2 separate regions of the Homo sapiens genome follow, and region 1 is linked to region 2. The links come from fine-mapping of genetic effects on gene expression. A gene starts in region 2. The other region holds a variant in brackets. All regions are shown on one strand. Distances are between the middles of the regions.

Region 1 (5,375 bases), 310 kb after region 2:
TTAGGTTTTTAACAAATGAACTTTGTGTGACACATTCAAACTGTAGCAATATGTACATTTTTTTTTTTTTAAGACGGAATCTTGCTCTGTCGCCCAGGCTGGAGTGCAGTGGCGCGATCTCGGCTCACTGCAAGCTCTGCCTCCCGGGTTCACACCATTCTCCTGCCTTTAATTGCTATAACTTAAGAGCTTTTAAAAAATCTTTTAGGGCAAGTCCTCCATCGTTGTTATTTTTAATTTTTTTGATCATTCTTAAACAATTTCTTTTCTAGAGAAAATTTAACAATGGTTAATCAATTTCACAAAAATTTTCTTGAGATTTTGTATTGTATATATTGAAGGTGTACAACATGATGTTCTGATATATGTATACATAGTGAAATTATTATTATAGTCAAGCAAATGAACATATCCATCATCTTACATAGTTAGCTTTTCTAGTGTACTAAAAAGTACCTAAAATCTATTCTCTTAGAAAATTTTCAGTGAGCAATATGGTATTGTTTAACCCATTTCCTGTTTGCCCCAAGAATACACTTGTCTCTAATCCTAATGTAACAGAAATGTTACATTGTTTTTTATCCATAAAATGGTTTCAACATTCAAGAATTACTGTGAAGATTAAATGTTTTATGTGTATAAAATGCTTAGACCAGTGCCTGGTTCATAGTAAGCATTTAGTCAATGTTGTTGTTGATGCTGTCACTCTCTTACCTGTTCCTTTCATAATACCTAATGTGATAAGATGGAAGACCTGATTTGAACATCCTAAGAAGATGAACTAAAGTTGCTTCATCCAGAGTATGAATTTAATGGAAAATAGAACAGTTTAGACAAGAAAGGGATTAAGAAGGCTGACTAGATGAAGGTAGTATGTTCCTCCTCCAGGGAGAGGAACCAGAATAGAAAGTAGGTACATTTCAAACAGACCATCTAGAAGAGAATGCTAGGATTCACCAGAGAAAATACAAGAAGCACCAAAAATAAGTAAAGAGAAGGTTCAGGACACCTTGCCTAGTGAGGGACTAACTGAGAGCTGAGAGAGGCTCCTAGATATGGGGAAACAGTAAGAGAGAAACTCCCAGGTTTCTCTGGACTTTGGGAGAAAACTTTGACCCTCTAGACCTTGGGCCTGACATACAGAGCTGCCTAAAGATTGCACAGAGATGTCATTCCAGAAAGGGAACCCACATGGAATCTCACAGGCATCCGAGCCTAGACCAGCCTCAGCCAGGTGCCATTTAGAGAGCCCAGATACTGGCGATCTACATACTTAGCTGCTGCCACTGTGCTGCTTCAAGGAGAGATAGGAGAGACTGGGTGCTCCCGTGCACCCCTGGGAGGATCCCTACCACTCTGCTGTGGAATGCTGTTGAGATTGAGATATGAGCAGACCACATTTCCCACAGCTTCTTGCCCATGGTGCTCACCTGAGAGGGGATCCACGCTCTCTGGTAATAAGCCCACAACTGACACCATTTTAAGAGTTTAATCCTGGGATTTGCCTCACCCTTGGGCCAAGTTTGAGTTGCCATGGCTGCAGCCAGCACCCAGTCAAAAAGGGACAAGGAAACCAAGCTGTCCTACACATATATAGGACAATATTCACTACCCTGCTACAGGCTGCTGTGAGACTAAGACTTGAGCAGACCCCATTCCCCATAGTTTCTTGCCCATACTGCTTGCCTTAGGGGGTCCTCCCCTCTCTGGTCACAAACTGACAGCTAGCTTCATTTCGAGAGTTTAACACTGAGCTGTGCCCCACACTTGGCCCAAGTTCAAGGCAATACAGCTGCAGCTGCCACTCAGCTGGGAGAGAGACAGGGGAGGCAAAGCTCTCCTAAGCACACTAAGGGTAATACCCATCACCCTGCTACAGTGGCTCTGGGACTGGGGACTAGCCTGCTCAACCCATCACAGCTATCAAGAACACCAATATGGACCACTCGGGTCCCTGTGGTTTGCTCCACCACTGATACTGCCATCACCCACATTACACCAGCTGTCACAGGATATGAGAACCCACCCACACACCTGGCCTACCAATCCCACTACTAGCTTCTAGTCAAGCCACTTGGGGCCCAAGAACCAGCCCTCCAGGACACTTTAACACCAAAGTCACTGTAAGTTGCTCTGGGCTTAAAAACAGGCACATTAAACCCACTGCTGCCACCACAGGGACCTGGAGACTGGCTCAGTCAGTGTCCAAGTCCCCAGCAAAATCTTGCCACAACCTCAGCTAATAACTGTACCCTAAGCCACTGAGGAAATCACGGATACCACTGACTCTGTATACTGCTAAAGAGTTCATGCAAAGATCACA[C/G]TATTGCAGGCACCCATAATCCTAGCCAAAGTATCCTTCTCAACCAACAACATACACATATCTTCAGGAAAGAAATTCCCTTACCAAAGCAATTTCAAAAAAAAATTGGAACCAGCAACTGCTTCACCAGATGCTCAGATATCAAAAGGACACAAAAAACATGAAAAATTGGGGAAATATAACACCACCAAAGGACCACAACTGTCCTGCAACAGATCCCAATAAAAAAAATTCCTCAAAATGTCAAGTAAAAGATTCAAAATATTGATTTTTAAAGGAGCTCAATGAGATGCAAGAGAAATCTAAAAACTAATATAAAGAAGTCCAAAAATCAACTTAGGATATGACTAAAAAATTACCAAGGAGATAGATATCTTTAGGGAAAAAAAAGCAGAAATTCTGGAATGAAAAATTCATTCACTGTGGAGTGCAGTGGCTCATGCCTAGAATCCCAGCATTTGGGAAGGCCAAGGTAGGAGGATCACTTGAGGTCATGAGTTCAAGTCCAGCCTGGGCAACATAACAAGATCCCATCCCCACAAAAAAAAAAAAAAAAATACAAAAATCACCCAGGCACAGTGGTGCATGCCTGTAGTCCCAGTTACTTGGGAGGCTGAGGCTGGAGGATCACTTGAGCCCAAGAGTTCAAGGCTGCAGTGAGCTATGTTCACACCACTGCACTACAGCCTGGGCAACAGAGCAATACTGTCTCAAAACAAAAATCATTGAAGGAAATAAAACATACATTTGAAAACTTCAATAATAGACTAGAAAGCAGAAGGAAGAATCTCAGAAATAGAAGACAAGTCTTTTGAAATAATACAGTTAGACAAAAGTAAAGAAAAAGAATAAGAAAGAAGGAGCAAAGCCTTCTAGACACCTGGGACTACATAAGATGAGCAAACCTATGAATTATTGGTATTCCAAGGGGGAAGAGTGATCAAAAAGTTTAGAAAATCTATTTGAGGAAATAGCTGATGAAAATTTCCCAAGCCTAGCAAGAGAGTCTGATATCCAGATATAGGAGGCCCAGCTATCCCCAGGAAAAAACATTGCAAAAAGACTTCAACATAACATGTATTATTCAGAATGTCTAAAGTCAAAGTAAATGAAAGAATTTTAAAATTAGCAAGAGAAAAGCAGCTAGTCATCTATAAAGGAAACCTCATCAGATTAACAGCAGACTTTTCAGCAGAAACCTTATAGGTCAGAAGACAATGGGATGGCATTTTCAAAGCACTAGAAAGAAAACCTGTCAGCCAAGAATTTTATATTCTACCAGAAAAAGCTTCATAAATGCAGGAGAAATGAAGTCTTTCTCAGACAATCAAATGCTGAATAAATTTGTCACCTCTAGACTGGCTATGCAGGAAATGTTCAGAGGAGTCTTAAACATGGAAATGAAAGGTCAGTATTCATTATGATGAAAACACATGGAAGAATAAAACTAACAATTCTTATAAAATAATCACACAAAGGAGGAGGAGAAAAGAATCAAATGGCAACATGACATAATTTGTTAAAACCGTAAAGATAAAAAGAGAAAAAAAAGAAAAAAATTATAAAACGATTTGTAAAAATTAATAATATGACAGAAACAAAGCCTCACATATCAATAATAATCTTGAATGTAAATAAATGTTCCACTTAAAAGATAAAGATCGGCATAATGAATAAAATAAAATCAAGATCCAGCTATACGCTGCTAACGAGAAACTCACTTTACCCATAAAGACACACACAGACTGAAAGTAAAAGAGTGGGAAAAGATAGTTCATGCAATTGGAAATCAAAAGCAAGTACGTGTAGCTATATTTCTATTAGATAAAACAGACTTTAAATCAAAAACAGCAATAGGCCCACACTCAGACCCTAGCCCTGGTGGGTGCCCCCACCACACCTCAGCCACTGGGCTCCTTCCCTCAGCCTCTTCTCTGGTGCGCCCACCCACTCCCTTACTTCTCCCCCTTTCCCTCCTCCCCATCCGCTCTCCTTCCCTCACCTCTTTCCTCCCCACCTCCCCTCGTTTCCTCCCCCATCCCCTTGACTCTCCCCTCCCTGCCCTCACTCTCTTGCTCACCCTCAGCCAAGCCCCCACTATGATGGAGGCAGGTGCCAGTGCCATTGTCACTGCTGTCATTGCAGAGTGGGAGTCAGGTTCCCAGAAAGCAGCTTGATGAGTGTCCAAAGTAGGAGTGGAAGTTTGGAGAGGCCACCATCTTGGTCCCACCTCTCCACATCTCCAACTCCAGGCTCAGCGGCAAGCGGCAGCCAGGTCCCTGATGAAACACACACCACCATCCAGGAGGCCCAGGGAAGGTGCAATGGATGAGCTTTGTAGTCTGAATCCAAGAAGGCAAGAGTTATTGGAAGCTAGATTTATTGGAGTTGTAAGTGGGAACACTGGGAGTACCAGCAGTTGCAGTGTTGGAGCTAAAGCCTCAACAGATAATGAAAGCTCTTATCACAGTTTTGGAAGCTTAGGATCTTTAAGTGACAAAGAATCAGAGAAACGACTGGCAGGCAGCTGAAAGGACTATAACAGTGACTGGACTTTATCTGCAGTGGGTTCCCTTGAGAAGCCAGAGAAGAAACAATCAGAATCATCCAGGGGAAGATAGAGAAAAGCAGAAAACCAGAATGAAAATTGTCAGGGAAAAAGTATTGGGGGGACGTGGCCACAAAAGTAGTGACTATTTTGAATACCAGGGTGGAAATGGCTCAAGTCCAGTAAGAGGCATACCTCCTGCAATCAGTTCTCCTCAAAATTCACATTCACATTCCACTCCTTCCTCATCTCTTCGACCAAATAGCCCTTCTCCTACTGCATTAGCATTTGGGGACCACCCTATTGTACAACCAAAGAAGTTATCCTTTAAAATTATTCAGACTGATCTCACAATCCTGAAATTAGCAGCATTAGAAAGTAATAAAATCCAGGACCTGGAAAAGAAGGAAGGATGTATAGATTATTTGCTCAGGGCTAACCGTGATCTCAGATGGCAAATAGATGAACAAAAAAAATTACTTGAAAAATACAAAGAATGATTAA
Region 2 (5,375 bases):
TCACACTGAGAGGTCAGGTGGGGTGGAGGACTGGGATTTGAAGAGATATTGGATTGAGTCCAGAGCCTTCCTGCCTGACTGAGAAGCTGCCTACACAGGTGGGGCCGGGTGGGGCTGGGTCCATGAGTGATTCAGGTAAGAGTCAGCTCTGGTTTTCCAAATAGTGGGTGGGGCCCAGCAGGAGTGAGACCTCTCCAGGAGCATTACAATCCAGGCTGTAGCTAGGGTGAGCAGGAGGGCACGTGATTGGTGTGGATAATGGGGAGGGGGCTATGCAGAGAGAAATCCTATCCCTTGTTACCAGTGGGGTATAGGGAAGGAGGTCCTTGCTGCCTTAGCTGGGAAGGGCTCAGGGCCTGGGGTGAAGCTGGGCCTGTGGGACAGCTGGGGGTGCTGGCCCATGGGACAAGCTGGAGAAGGCAGGGAAACTGAGGCAGGCAGTGATACTTTTGGTGGCCGTCACAGCAGATGGGTGGTTGGCAGTCACTTCGATGAGGCTGGTGCTGGACCTGGTCTGTTTTTTTAATGCATTCACTACTCTTTTAGATACTCATTCATTTCTTTGTTCAAGCAACAAACATTCCCTGGATGTCTTTTATCCGCCAGATCCTATGCTTGGCCTTGGGGCTACAAGAGTGACCAGGACTCTTATAGCCTCATAATGTTTGGGGGCAGAGGGACAATGTGATCAGGAGTGGCACTGCTGTGGCCAGGGAAGGCACAGGGGCTTCCTAGAGGAGAGAAGGGGGAGGAGGAGGCATGTTAGAGGAGGCCTACCAGGGGACATGGGAGGTGGACTTGCCCTATAAGTGGAAGCTCACAATCTTGAGGACTAGGATGGTGACACCAGTCCTAGGCATTTAGACTATAGCTTTGCAGTAGGGAGCAGGAAAAGGTGGCCCTGTGCTGTGGTCTCTTTCCCAGGGCTGGGGCAAGGGCTACCCCAGACCTCTCCCCTGTGTATCCAGCTGCATGCTGGGGCGGTTGGGGGTGCTGGCCCATGGGCCAAGCTGGAGAAGGCAGGGAAGGTTTGATCCTCCTCATTCCTTGAAGTGGATCAAATACAAGAAGCCCAAATTCAAATTCCACCTACCCATGCCAGCTCCCCTTCCCTGGATATTACCACCAGCATTGAGCCAGAAGGCTAGGTGTCCTCAGCACCTTTCTTCCCCTAAGCTCTAGTGCTAATCGGTCACCAAGCCCTGGCACTTCTGCCACCATTTCTCTCATCTACCTTCTCCCCACTCCATGCTCTTGGTCCTGCCTCATCCCTGGAGGGCTGCCTCGGCACCCTGCCTGCTCTCTCAGACTCCATCCTCTCCTGTATTGCAGCTGTGTTGAGATCTGTGGTGCTGGTCACAGAGCCTGGCTGCAGTGAGGGCTCAATTGCTCCATGCTGGAACTGGACCAGTCCTCAGAGACCATCTGATCTGCTCATTCTGTTGTTCAAATGGGGAAACAGAGGCCCAGTGAGGCCTAGCGGCTTGTTTAAGGTCACGCTATGGAAGAAGTGACTTGAACTCACTTCTGATTCTGAGGTGAAGGCTCTTCCCATCAGTGCCAGGGCCACACAAGTGTTTCTTGTTTTGAGTGCAGATGGGTGGCTTGGAAGTCAGCAGGAGGCACAGGTGTGGTGACTTGATGGGCTCAGGGCCCAAAGGGAGGGAGGGCCTGGGAGTGGAAGATGGAACCTCATTCAAGCCCGTCTCTCCTTTCTTCTCACCAGAAACTCCCCCTTTCTTTGGACAACTGGACCCCCACACCTCCACCCTGTCCCCATCCCTTTTGCTGATAATCCCATCTCCTTGCCCTGTAAATGCTAGGGGGCCCTTGATTTGGGGAGGAAGGGAAGGCTGAAGCCGGTCCCGGCACCCTGAGAGCCCCAGGGCCCTCCAATGCCCCACTCCTTCTCCAGGTCTGCCCTGGCTTGCTCTGTCTCCCTAGGGCAGCTGGCTTTTGTCCCAGGGGAGCATGGGAACAGCTTGGGTGAGAATGGGGGAGGGGCTTCCCAGCAGGTTTCACCTCTCCCACCTGGCATAATTTCTACCCTGCACCCAGTGATGCCCAGGAGCCAGCACAAGAACCTCTGAGCTCTCCTGCCGGCTTTCCCCACTGTGGGGCCCACAGGATGGCTGGGTGTGCTGGGGAAACTGAGGGAGATGACTTGTGGGTGCCAGCACCATGGGACTTTGGGTGATCTTGGACCTATTCCTTCCTCCTTCTAGGTGCTTCCTGAGCTGGCGAAAAGGAGAGCTGGATGCTGGGATTCTATAAATTCGGCGGTGGATGTGAGTCTAGCTACAGCATGGACCCTGGCCAGCCCTGGAATCTGAGTTCAGAGATCTTTGAAAAAATGCCTTCCGATAACTGAGCACCTACTACATGCTGGACACTGCACCAGGAGATTTGTGTGCATTCCCTCATTGAATCTTACAACCACCCTCTGGGATGGTTTTTGCTATTAAGCCGATTTTATAGATGAGAATACTGAGGGCTAGAAAAGATAAGTACCTTGTCCAAGGTGACACGGCCAGTAAGCTGTGGAGTCTGGATTTGAACTAGGCTCTCTTGGAGTTTGGAGCCCGGTCTTTTCATTTCTGGCAGAGACCTGTGGCTTCAGGGGGCGGAGCCCAGCCCATGGGGGAAGTAAGTCCTTCCTGTTAGATCTGTCTGAGGAGTAGTGAGTTTCTCATCTAGGAAACCATCAGCAGGCCAGGCTGGACTGCCCCATTTCTAGCCCCCTTTCTTCTCTGCAGACTGCCCTGTTTCTAGCCCCTTTTCTTCTCTACCCTTTTCTGTAGAGTGCGTTAGACCCATTTTACAGAAGGGGACTCTGAGACCCTTTCTTCTCTGCGGGGCAGGGTATGTGGTTCAGACGAGCCGCTTCCATCCCCAGTTCTGTCCCTAAGCCCTGGGTGACCTCAGCATTGAGCATCGTCTCTGAGCCTCAGTTTCCTGTCTATATCTAGTGCCACCAGGCATCAGAAACGTAAGTGCTTCAAGGATCTTGGGTGAAAAGCCGCTTTAGCGGCGAGCATACACTAATTAATAAAATGCCTTGGCCGGGGCTGGGCAGAGGAAGTAAGCGGGCAGCCGAGGTGACAGCTGGAGGGAGGAGCGGGGGTGGAGCCGGGGGAAGGGTGGGGAGGGGATGGGCTGGAGCTCCGGGCAGTGTGCGAGGCGCACGCACAGGAGCCTGCACTCTGCGTCCCGCACCCCAGCAGCCGCGCCATGAGCCGTGAGTGCGACCCCGGTGCCCGGTGGGGAATTTTCTTGGCCTCCTGGTGGAGCCTTGAATGCCAGGCTCAGCCCCTCATCTCTCTCCTCTGCAGGGAGTCTCTTGCTCTGGTTCTTGCTGTTCCTGCTCCTGCTCCCGCCGCTCCCCGTCCTGCTCGCGGACCCAGGGGCGCCCACGCCAGGTAGGCGGCCCCATCCCTCCCCAAGGGAATCCCCGGTCTTGCGCCCCTGGCCTGGTTTCAACCCCCTCCTTTCCCCTCCAGCGGGCCCAGCTTCCCCTTTCTGCTCGCGGTGCTGAGAAAGACTGAGGCTGAGTCTTTTGGTGGGATGGGGGCTCCCTGAAGCCCCCCCGGCGGTGTGGCCTTGGCTAATGGGCTATCTAGTTCTTTCAGGGGAAACAGCAGACTGGGATCTGGTGCCAACTTGGGGAGAAGGGACAGTCCCTATCCATCCCCCTCACCTGTTCTGGGCCCCAGATGTCTAAGCAGCCTCTGCACCCAACAACCCCGCTGTTTCCTATAGGGGCCTCTTTGGGAGGAAGCCGCAGGCACCAAGGGAAATGAGTTCCCTTTCTCCAGCCTCTAACCGTCTGGGAACCCATCCTGATTCCCATTGCCAGTGGAGAAGGTCTCCCCTGGTGAAGACTTCGGGAGAACATGGGAGATGGAAATACATTTAGGAGCCGGGATGCTTCATCTGGGGTTTAAGAGATCCCCATTGAGCAAATGAGGAAACCGAGGCTCAGTAGGTGCCATGATTCCCCAAGCTCACAAAATACATGGTGGGCCCAGGATCTGAACTCAGGTCTGTCTGCGTCCACACACTTCGCAAGGTCTTTCCACAGAAAGCTGCTTCTACCCACAATGGACCCGGAGCCACTCTGGGTTTCATGGGGGAGGTTGATGGGGAAATTCCGCCCTTCCCTCCCCCATGCATGTGCCAGGTTCCAGGTGAAGGAATTCAGCTCCTCGCTCAGCCAACCTTCCTCCCCCAGCTCGCTGCTTGTGTGTGTGCGTGTGTGTGAGCATGTGTCCCAGTTGGATATAGTTTCCTCCACCACCTAGCTGTGTAAAATCTCTAAAATGAGGCCCAGAGAGGGCAGGAGGGAGCAGAGGGAGTCCGCACTTTCTGCTGTGATGCTCTAAGGATCTGGTGCGTGGGGGAAAGAGGAAAGATATGTACATGGATTTTGGATCAGACCAAGTTTCCTGAAACGGGCTTTGGGTGGGTGGCATTTAGGGGACCCAAAGAGAGGACGGAGGGTGCTCTAGGAAAGGGATTGCGTTGAATAAAAGTCTGGTTTATGGGAAGAGGAGGAGGAAGACTCATGTGGCCAGCACTTTAAAGTTTACAAAGGTTGGTTGTGGACATCCACCTCTTTGGTGCTCTCAACAGCCCTGCCAGAGAGATGCGTTAGACCCAGTCTACAGAAGGGGACTCTGAGGCCCAGAGGGAGTGAAGCCACTTGTCTGAATCCTCACAGTGAGCTGGTGGTGGGGAGTAGAAGGGGCTCTTCAGGTTGCCTCGCTGACCCATCTTGTCAGTCCCTGGATCAGCCCAGCACTTCCTCTGAGGCCCCATCTGGCCTCATCCAGGCACTCTTGGTATACAGGTCCCACCCGTCTGTATTCTTTTTTAGTCCATTCACTAATGCACAATGAGCCATGGTCTGTGCTATTTTGTTTTTTGCCTTTTCTGTTTCCTTTTGTATAATAAATGTTTACACGGAATTGTTTTTTTTTATCCCCAAGGGTTATTTATGCCAGTCTTTGGCTGGGGCCTGGAGACACGGAGCTGGGAGGAGCTGACAGGCTGATGGTGGAGCCAGAAATGCCAACAGACTGTCATCCAAGGGGACCAGGGCTGTGCGGAGCTCATGGGAGGAAGCAGGGGTATAGGGAGCCCAGGGAAGGGAGCAGGGGTGTGCGGAGCTCAGGGGAGGGAGCAGCTGCCTCTCAGTGCGAAGAATTGAGGGAGGCTTCTTGGATCTGATGACTTTTGGACTGGACCTCGAAGGAGGTGGCGGGTGGGGGAAACACTAAGAGACTCGACCAGGAAACACCGTAAGGGTAATGTGGAGCAGGAGGCTGAGGTTGGATGCGTAATGTGGGGATGAGACTGGAGGCCAGAAAACTGGT

What was found. PIP is the estimated chance that this variant, and not a neighbour inherited with it, causes the effect. A credible set is the group of variants that fine-mapping cannot tell apart.
Region 1: its variant is the best candidate, but not a certain one, in a credible set for the expression of PTGS1 in esophagus muscle (GTEx, PIP 0.76).

What each region holds. Positions count from the first base shown.
Region 1 is chr9:122,681,540-122,686,914 of GRCh38, forward strand. It overlaps the pseudogene TLK1P1. Among named protein-coding and RNA genes, the nearest start is that of OR1L3, 9.1 kb to the left of the region's middle. The variant C/G (reference allele first, on the strand shown) is at 2,324.
Region 2 is chr9:122,367,854-122,373,228 of GRCh38, forward strand. PTGS1 (prostaglandin-endoperoxide synthase 1) reads left to right here and starts at 3,171. Exons shown (of 11, transcript NM_000962.4): 1 at 3,171-3,238; 2 at 3,333-3,419. The coding sequence starts at 3,232.